Linked DNA regions of Homo sapiens. The protein of the gene in region 1 interacts with the protein of each later gene in a pairwise test. Each region holds a gene or a part of one and is shown on either strand. Other genes may lie near its edges. The genes, in order: SETD5 and DPPA2.

Region 1 (3,819 bases):
GCCCGCTGGCCTCTCCCCTTGGTTAAATAGCCAAGGGGAGAATGCAAACCCCAGCCCAAATGGAGAGACATTTACATACGTTTTATATAATATACAAAGAAACCAGCATCCCAGGCAACATGATTTCCACTCCCAATGCTCTCCCAGACTGATGGGTTTGTGGGGGAAACAACAAAAAGAAAAGTACTCTGCTGAGGTCTCAGCATTTAAAAAAAAAAAAAAAAAAAAAATCTCCCCTCATTTGAGCAAACACCTGATTTCGATTTTGAAAAGTGAAATTTTGTAACAGTCACACACAAAGAGAGAAGACTGTGCATATGATAGTTGTAGGACAGGGTAGAAAAGAAGGGGATGCAAGAGGCTGGGGAAAAAAGGAAAACAAATTAGAGGGAAGGAAGGAGGGAAACTCACAGTATTATCTTGTCCAAAAGAAAAGAAGGTCCACTGCAGCACCAGGGATTACACCTGTCATATATTCACTACCCCTACCATGGTTATAACTGAATACAAAATTAGATAAATAAAAACACGCCAGATATTACAGTAAACAAGTGAAAGAAATAAGCTGGCAACCATATGGAATTTAAAAAGATTGTGTACCCCACCTGGGCTGGCTCCAGGGCTCCTCCAGGGGTGTACAACAGGCACAATGCACTGATGGGGAGAAGCCGGTCTGCTCTCATCTCTCATCCAGAACAGTGTTAGGGGTGTGGGTGGCTTGGTAACTCTTTCACTGGGCCCACTCTCACATAAGCATCCCCCAGAGAAATGTGGGGCAGGCCCACACACAATCACAGTCCTGTCGGTGCCACTCCACAAACCTATCTTCCCACTCTTACCCTGCAGTCACAAGTGCATGCTCCCCAATCATGGAGGCGGTCCTGCTCATGGGATCATCAACTCCTGATTAATTGGGAGTAGAAAAAATAAAATTCGAAGCATTCCCAAACCACTCGGTATCCTTCCTAATGAAATTTATTGCCAAAAGCTGGTAAGTAGCAATGCAATTGGCCTATATCATGTCTCATTCCTCCTTTTCTTGTCTACTTACTTCATGGGTTACTGAGCTGTGAAATAGCTTGGGAAGGGGGAGTAGGATGGTAACAGTTGGAGGCTCAGACAATCTACTCAAATAATCTGCTCCCGAATAATCAAGAGCTGACCATGAGCTTTTCTTCAAAGAGCCAGGCACCCTCCAGTTGGTGCAGGTTCCAAGCTTTACTATCCTTGCCTATTTCTTGGTGATCTTAAGACAAAGATAAACAGTATTCTTGGTGGACACACATTGGCCAGATACCTGCTTTTGGAATGGTTGTCTTAGGATGAACATTTACATACCTACCTTTTTTCTTAAGTGCATAAAACCCTAACAGTACTCAGATGGCTTGGGGCTTTGAGATTGGCTCTTTTAACTTTTTTTCCTTTGAAAACTTTTTTTTTTTTTTTTTTTAAATTTAAAAAGATGTCCTCACTGCACAAGTGACTACGGGCTACAGGCAAGGATGGGAGACGGAGGCTTCAACACAACTCATTGCACTTAGAACCGTTACTAACCGAAACACCATTTGCTTGTCAACAATGTACCCTTGACAGCAGGGAGAAACTTCTTTATAGTCTCTGCTTCAGACAAGATTTACAGCTTTCTCCAAGGCCAGAGGCCAATTGTGACCACAAGTCTTGTTTCTTGTCCACCAGACCCAATCCTCTGGCACCTTGTACCCCCCGTTCCTCAGCAATATGCTCGGCCTAGGTTCCAGAGGCAGCTGGAAGGAAGCAGCTATGGGCTCATTCAGTTCTGTTTGCCCAAATCCAGAAGCCCTAGGAAAGTCCCGTCTGAGTCTTGACTCCTGACCCTTGCAGTGGCTGGAGTCGGTACTGGTGCACACCCCCACTCCCACGGTGTGGGTAGTGCTGTGAATTGGAAACCGCAGATACCCTGGAGGCCTGGTAGACAGCTGACTGCCCAGCACTGGGCAGACTGATAGTCCGTAAGTCTGATGGCAATGACGACCTAGAGTTCTGAGGAAAGGAGGTGGAACTCAGAGTTCCTGTGCTGGACTGAGAAACTGAATCTGAGGTTGGCGAGTCTGAGGGTCCCTGCAGGGTAGGGCTAGCAGCACTAGAAGGGCAGCTCCTCCTTGGAAGATTGCTGCCAGTGCTGTTTCCAGAATGTGGCTGGCTGCTAAAATACCCTGGTGTCCCCGTAAATGGGGCCAACGAGTCTGTGGACACAGGGTGGGCGGGGCTGGAATAGGACGTGGAAGAGAGGGATGATTCTGAAGAACCGTGAGAGGGGGGGTTTCCAGGTCTCAGTGCAGTAGTTCGATAACTGTATCCTGGAGACTGTGTAGGATGTCCTCTGAAGGGGGAGGAACTCTGCTGAAGGAGGCTTTGTGATTCTGTCCGAGGACTATCACACTGCAGGAGCTAGACAAAGTTGGGAGGAAACGAATAAGGACGCGAACAAGTCCCTTAAATGGCTGGTGAACATTTATAATACCCTACATTCTTTTTTCTTCATCTTTTAACCATGTATTCTTTTTAGGAAACCAAAGGCAGTAAAATGTCTGTCTTTGATCACCGTATTCATCTTCTGGCATAATTTATTACCTGAGGACAAGCAGATGATGACTTATTTCCAAGGCTGCTGAAACTATATGCAAAGACAGCATCTCAATGGCAAAGGATGACCAGGACAATTTGGGACCCAGAACACACTCCTATGGCTAGAGACCAGCAATTTCTCATCTCACCTGGTAGCTGTATCTGGAAGGGCTGTAAACTGTTGCTCCTTTAGAGAGTGCTGAGCTTAATGTCTCTGGGCCTTCTCCATCTGCAGGGTCTGGAAGGTAACATATATAAAAAAAAATCAACTTGGCTTCTTAGAATAAGTAAGAAAGAGCCATTTTTCATTTAAATCACCAGTGCCATCACCAACCCGTACTGCTCTCTTTGTGACAAATTGGGTGAGTGCAGCATGCCAGAAGGGCAAAATGAGTGGTTAATTATGGGCTATGTTCTAAATGCCTGATGTGATTCCCGTCTTCTTTCTCTTCATCCTTCATCGAGGTAGATTTCCAGGACTTTGGAGAGATGAGAGTTACAGAAAGGTATTCCTTGGGGAAAAAAGAGCAGACAGAGAGCAAGCAATGCTAGATCTTACAAATGTGGTAGCCCAAATGAGCATAAGTGGGCTGGAACCTAGCATGCGGTGGAGCCCAACTGCATCAGAAACTGACTCACCTCAACTCAGCACTAGGCATGAACTGTACAGGACTCGGCTCATGTGTCCCTGAATGTGGTGGCAGCAGAAGGCCATGGGCTCACCTGAGTCTTTCTCTGTGATGTTACTCTCCCATGTGGGAGAGGGCTCTCCCTTTTGGGCCACCCTCACGCTGCTTCGGAGGACCTTGGGGATGCTCCCTCCTTCTCGGAGTCGTTCTACTGATGTGGGAACCATCCTGTAAAGGCAACAGGGTGCAAGTTCAAGCCACAGGACTTAACCAAAACAAATGAAGCCCTAACCAGTGCACAGTGTATTTTCTTAAAACATCCTCTTAAACATTACTTTCTTCAGAACCAATTTAAAACAACGTATTTCCTCTGCCTCCAACTATGTCAGGCACAAAAGAGAAACATCAACAACAACCACTTTTAAAGAAAAAGAAATCAAGGAAAAAGTGGGTTAAAGATGTTAACTTCCCTTAACCCCCATTTAAAATGTTAAAATTTCTCCTTTAGGAAATCATGTGCCTGATACACAGTACTGGTTTAATAAAGGTTTCATAGATTAATGAACATGAAACATTTGAGCCAGGA
Region 2 (3,819 bases), about 100 Mb from region 1:
TAATTTATCTCCACACCTCTCTCATCTCACTTCCACCCAATTTTATCACCAAAAGCTGAAATTTTTACTCATGGATGGACATCGGGAATTCTATAGTCTAAAGCAGTGTTTATGTGCATGTATATTTTCCTGGAGAGCACATAGTTATCATTATATTCTCAAACAAGTCCATGTCCCAAAAGTTACTGGGAGATGATGACTTACAGGATAATGTAGACATAAAATCTTTCATGGTCTGCTCCTCCACTCCCCAAACTCATTTCTCAATATAAGCTTCAATCACATTGACTAACTGGCAGTTTCTAAATATATTATATTCTTTATTTATTTTTAGTAGAAACAGGGTTTCACCATGTTGGCCAGGCTGGTCTTGAAGTCCTAACCTCAGATGATCTGCCCACCTTGGCCTCCCCAGGTGCTGGGAATACAGGCATGAGCCACTGCAACTGGCCATCATATTTTTTATTTCCCTGTGTTTGTACTGACGACTTCCACAACTGGTAAGCTCTTCCTCAGAACGTGTAATCTTCTCTTAAGTTTCCCTAAGCTATTCCAATATAGATTCTTCCCATATATTTTCATAGCTTTTCTTACTCTTTTTTTTTTTTTTTGAGACGGAGTTTCACTCTTGTTGCCCAGGCTGGAGTGCAATGGCACAATCTCAGCTCACCGCAACCTCTGCCTCCCGGGTTCAGCGATTCTTCTGCCTCAGTCTCCCGAGTAGCTGGGATTACAGGCATGTGCCACCACGCCCAGCTAATTTTGTATTTTTAGTAGAGACGGGGTTTCTCCATATTGGTCAGGCTGGTCTCGAACTCCCGACCTCAGGTGATCCGCCCGCCTCGGCCTCCCAAACTGCTGGGATTACAGGCATGAGCCACCGCGCCTGGCCTTCTTACTCATTTTTAGTTGAGTAGGCTAGATGGATTTTGTTTTTGCATTCCAAGGTGAGTATCTGACATGTATTAAAAACTCAAATGTGTGTTTTTTTCCTTTAGAACAAGTCTCTAAAATTGAGGCAGAAATCAGGTCCTGACTTGTCAGATGCTTTGTTAAGGCTAAGAACTAGCCACATTTAGGCACAGCACGGTGGCTCATGCCCTTAATACCAGTACTTTGGGAGGCCGAGTTGGGTGGATGTCCTGAGGTCAGGAGCTTGAGACCAGCCTGGCCAACATACTGAAACCCTGTCTCTACTAAAAATACAGAAATTAGCCGGGCACGGTGGCTCACACCTGTTATCCCAGCACTTTGGGAGGCCGAGGCGGGCGGATCATGAGGTCAGGAGTTTGAAACCAGCCTGACCAACATGGTGAAACCCTTTCTCTACTAAAAATACAAAAATTAGCTGGGCGTGGTGGTGCATGCCTGTAATCCCAGCTGAGACTCGGGAGGCTGAGGCAGGAGAATCGCTTGAACCCAGGAGGCAGAGGTTGCAGTGAGCTGAGATCATGCCACTGCACTGCAGCCTGGGCGAGAAGAGCAAAACTCCATCTCAAAAAAAAAAAAGAACTAGCCACATTTATTGAGTTGTAATTCACTAGTGAGTTCTTCTTGCATCCTATTTTTGCCTGATCTATGTGGCAAATTAAGAAGACAGCATGTTCGCCCTCTGCTTTCTACTGTTAAATTATTTAGAAATCCATCTATACACCTACTTTTCTGTGTGCCATGCTTAACAAGATACATAAGGGTTACCTCTTAGCACAGTCGGGGCATAACATATTATCTTCTATGCCTGGGGATGGGAAAATGCAGGCAGGTAACAAGAAGAGAGAAATCATCCTCCTGTGAGTGGTAGGCACCCAGGCCTGACCTGCATGAAACTGCAGGCGTACCCAACCCTTTGTGTCTGCCGAGAGAAGTCTGCCATGGACCACACACCACCTGACGCCTGGAAAGGAAAAACAAATATAGACAGCAAAAATCAAGATAGCACCCCAACACAACCTCTCAGCAAGTCACTCTTGAATTTGCTCTTGTATTCTGCTCACAAATCAATTGAATGAGATGCATGAAAACCTAGACCACATGACACTATGATCTAATTTCACAAGTTACATAACACAAAGAATAGTAATTGTTGCTGGCTAGGCGCGGTGGCTCACGCCTGTAATCCCAGCACTTTGGGAGGTTGAGGCGGGAGGATCATCTAAGGTGGGGAGTTTGAGACCAGCCTGACCAATGTGGAGAAACCTCATCTCTACTAAAAATGCAAAATTAGCTGGGCATGGTGGCACATGCCTGTAATCCCAGCTACTCGGGAGGCTGAGGCAAGAGAATAGCTTGAACCCGGAAGGCAGAGGTTGTGGTGAGCTGAGATCACACCACTGCACTCCAGCCTGGGTGACAAGAGCAAAACTCCATCTCAAAAAATAATAATACTAATAATAATAAAATAAAATAAAATAAAAAATAATGGTTGCCATTTTGAAATGCTTGTTTTGTGTCCAATATTTTGCTAGGTGATTTATGTGTATTAATACATTTACTCTTAAGTACACTATTAATATTTACCTTCTATTTGCTTTTCTTATTATTTCTTATTCACAGGTGAGATAAACGAAGCTTATGGTGTTAAATATCATAAGTTACTCAGAGCCAAGTCATGGATCCAGGTATTCTGACTGACTTACAGTCCATTTACCTAACCACTACATTGTACTGCCTCAGCTATAGGAAACAGACAAGCGTCTGTTTAAAAGTGTAAGGAACAGGCTGGGCGTGGTGGCTTACGCCTGTAATCCCAGCACTTTGGGAGGCATAGGTGGGTGGATCACCTGAGGTCAGGAGTTCGAGACCAGCCTGACCAACATGGCGAAACCCCATCTCTACTAAAAATACAAAATTAGCTGGGTGTGGTGGCACGCGCCTGTAATCCCAGCTACTCAGGAGGCTGAGGCAGGAGAATCGCCTGAACCTGGGAGGCAGAGGTTGCAGTGAGCTGAGATCACGCCATTGCACTCCAGCCTGGACAACAAGAGTGAAACTCCATCTCAAAAAAAAAAAAAAAAAACGCGTAAGGAACAATTTAAGTAGGGAGATGTGATATTTGCAAGAAAACAAGCAGTACTCTTATGGAACGTCTGAAATTGAGAGAAAGTCAGTATTCTGAAAGACCTACAGCCCATTTACCTAACCACTACATTGTACTGCCTCAGCTACAGGAAACAGACAAGTGTCTGTTTAAAAGTGTAAGGAACAATTTAATTAAGGAGACGGGATATTTGCAAGAAAATAAGTGGTACACTCATGGAACGTCTGAAATTGAGGGAAAGGAGCAGTCACAGTGAATTTACATATCTGTAAATAAGCAGTACATGTAGTGTGATAGCTCCCCGATTAGACTGTGAAACAAGAGAAGATGTGTGTGTTTAGCACAGTATATACCCAGCAGCTAGACATACCTCTGGACCACAGCAGATGCTTAACAATTGCAGAATGAAGAGAAATATAAAATGATAAGTCACTGTGGGATAATAGTAACTCATACAGCATATTATTAAAAATTAGAAAGAGGTGTCCTCTTTGGGAAGGCAGTGCCCCCAGGCACACAGCTTTATGGCTGGACAATGCCTTTGCACAAATTATTAAAAGGTGCCCACTGTCCCCACATAAACGAATGTAGCTTGAAGAGCAGAGGATATGCCAATTTCAACTTCAAGTCTTCCTTCTGGCTGGTTTCCTTGTATGATGAATAATGTGTCCTACCATACTAGTTAGCTGGAATAAAATAGGATCTAGAATACTTCTGGAAATGGGAAAATGGGGGAGTAAAAAAAGGATTCAAGCCAAAAAGGAAGGTGACTTGAGATAGCA

The links.
Region 2: the proteins of SETD5 (region 1) and DPPA2 interact in a two-hybrid assay, tested with the Homo sapiens proteins (one large-scale study listed by BioGRID and IntAct).

What each region holds. Positions count from the first base shown.
Region 1 is NC_000003.12:9,474,091-9,477,909, reverse strand, and holds part of SETD5 (histone-lysine N-methyltransferase SETD5), read right to left. Parts: intron 3,462-3,819; coding exon 3,328-3,461; intron 2,843-3,327; coding exon 2,754-2,842; intron 2,611-2,753; coding exon of another isoform or gene 2,587-2,610; exon of another isoform or gene 2,428-2,586; coding exon 1,819-2,427; 3' UTR 1-1,818.
Region 2 is NC_000003.12:109,302,777-109,306,595, forward strand, and holds part of DPPA2 (developmental pluripotency-associated protein 2), read right to left. Parts: intron 1,895-3,819; coding exon 1,699-1,894; intron 1-1,698. UniProt on the Homo sapiens protein: Binds to target gene promoters, including NKX2-5 and SYCE1, but not GATA4, and may be involved in the maintenance of the active epigenetic status of these genes.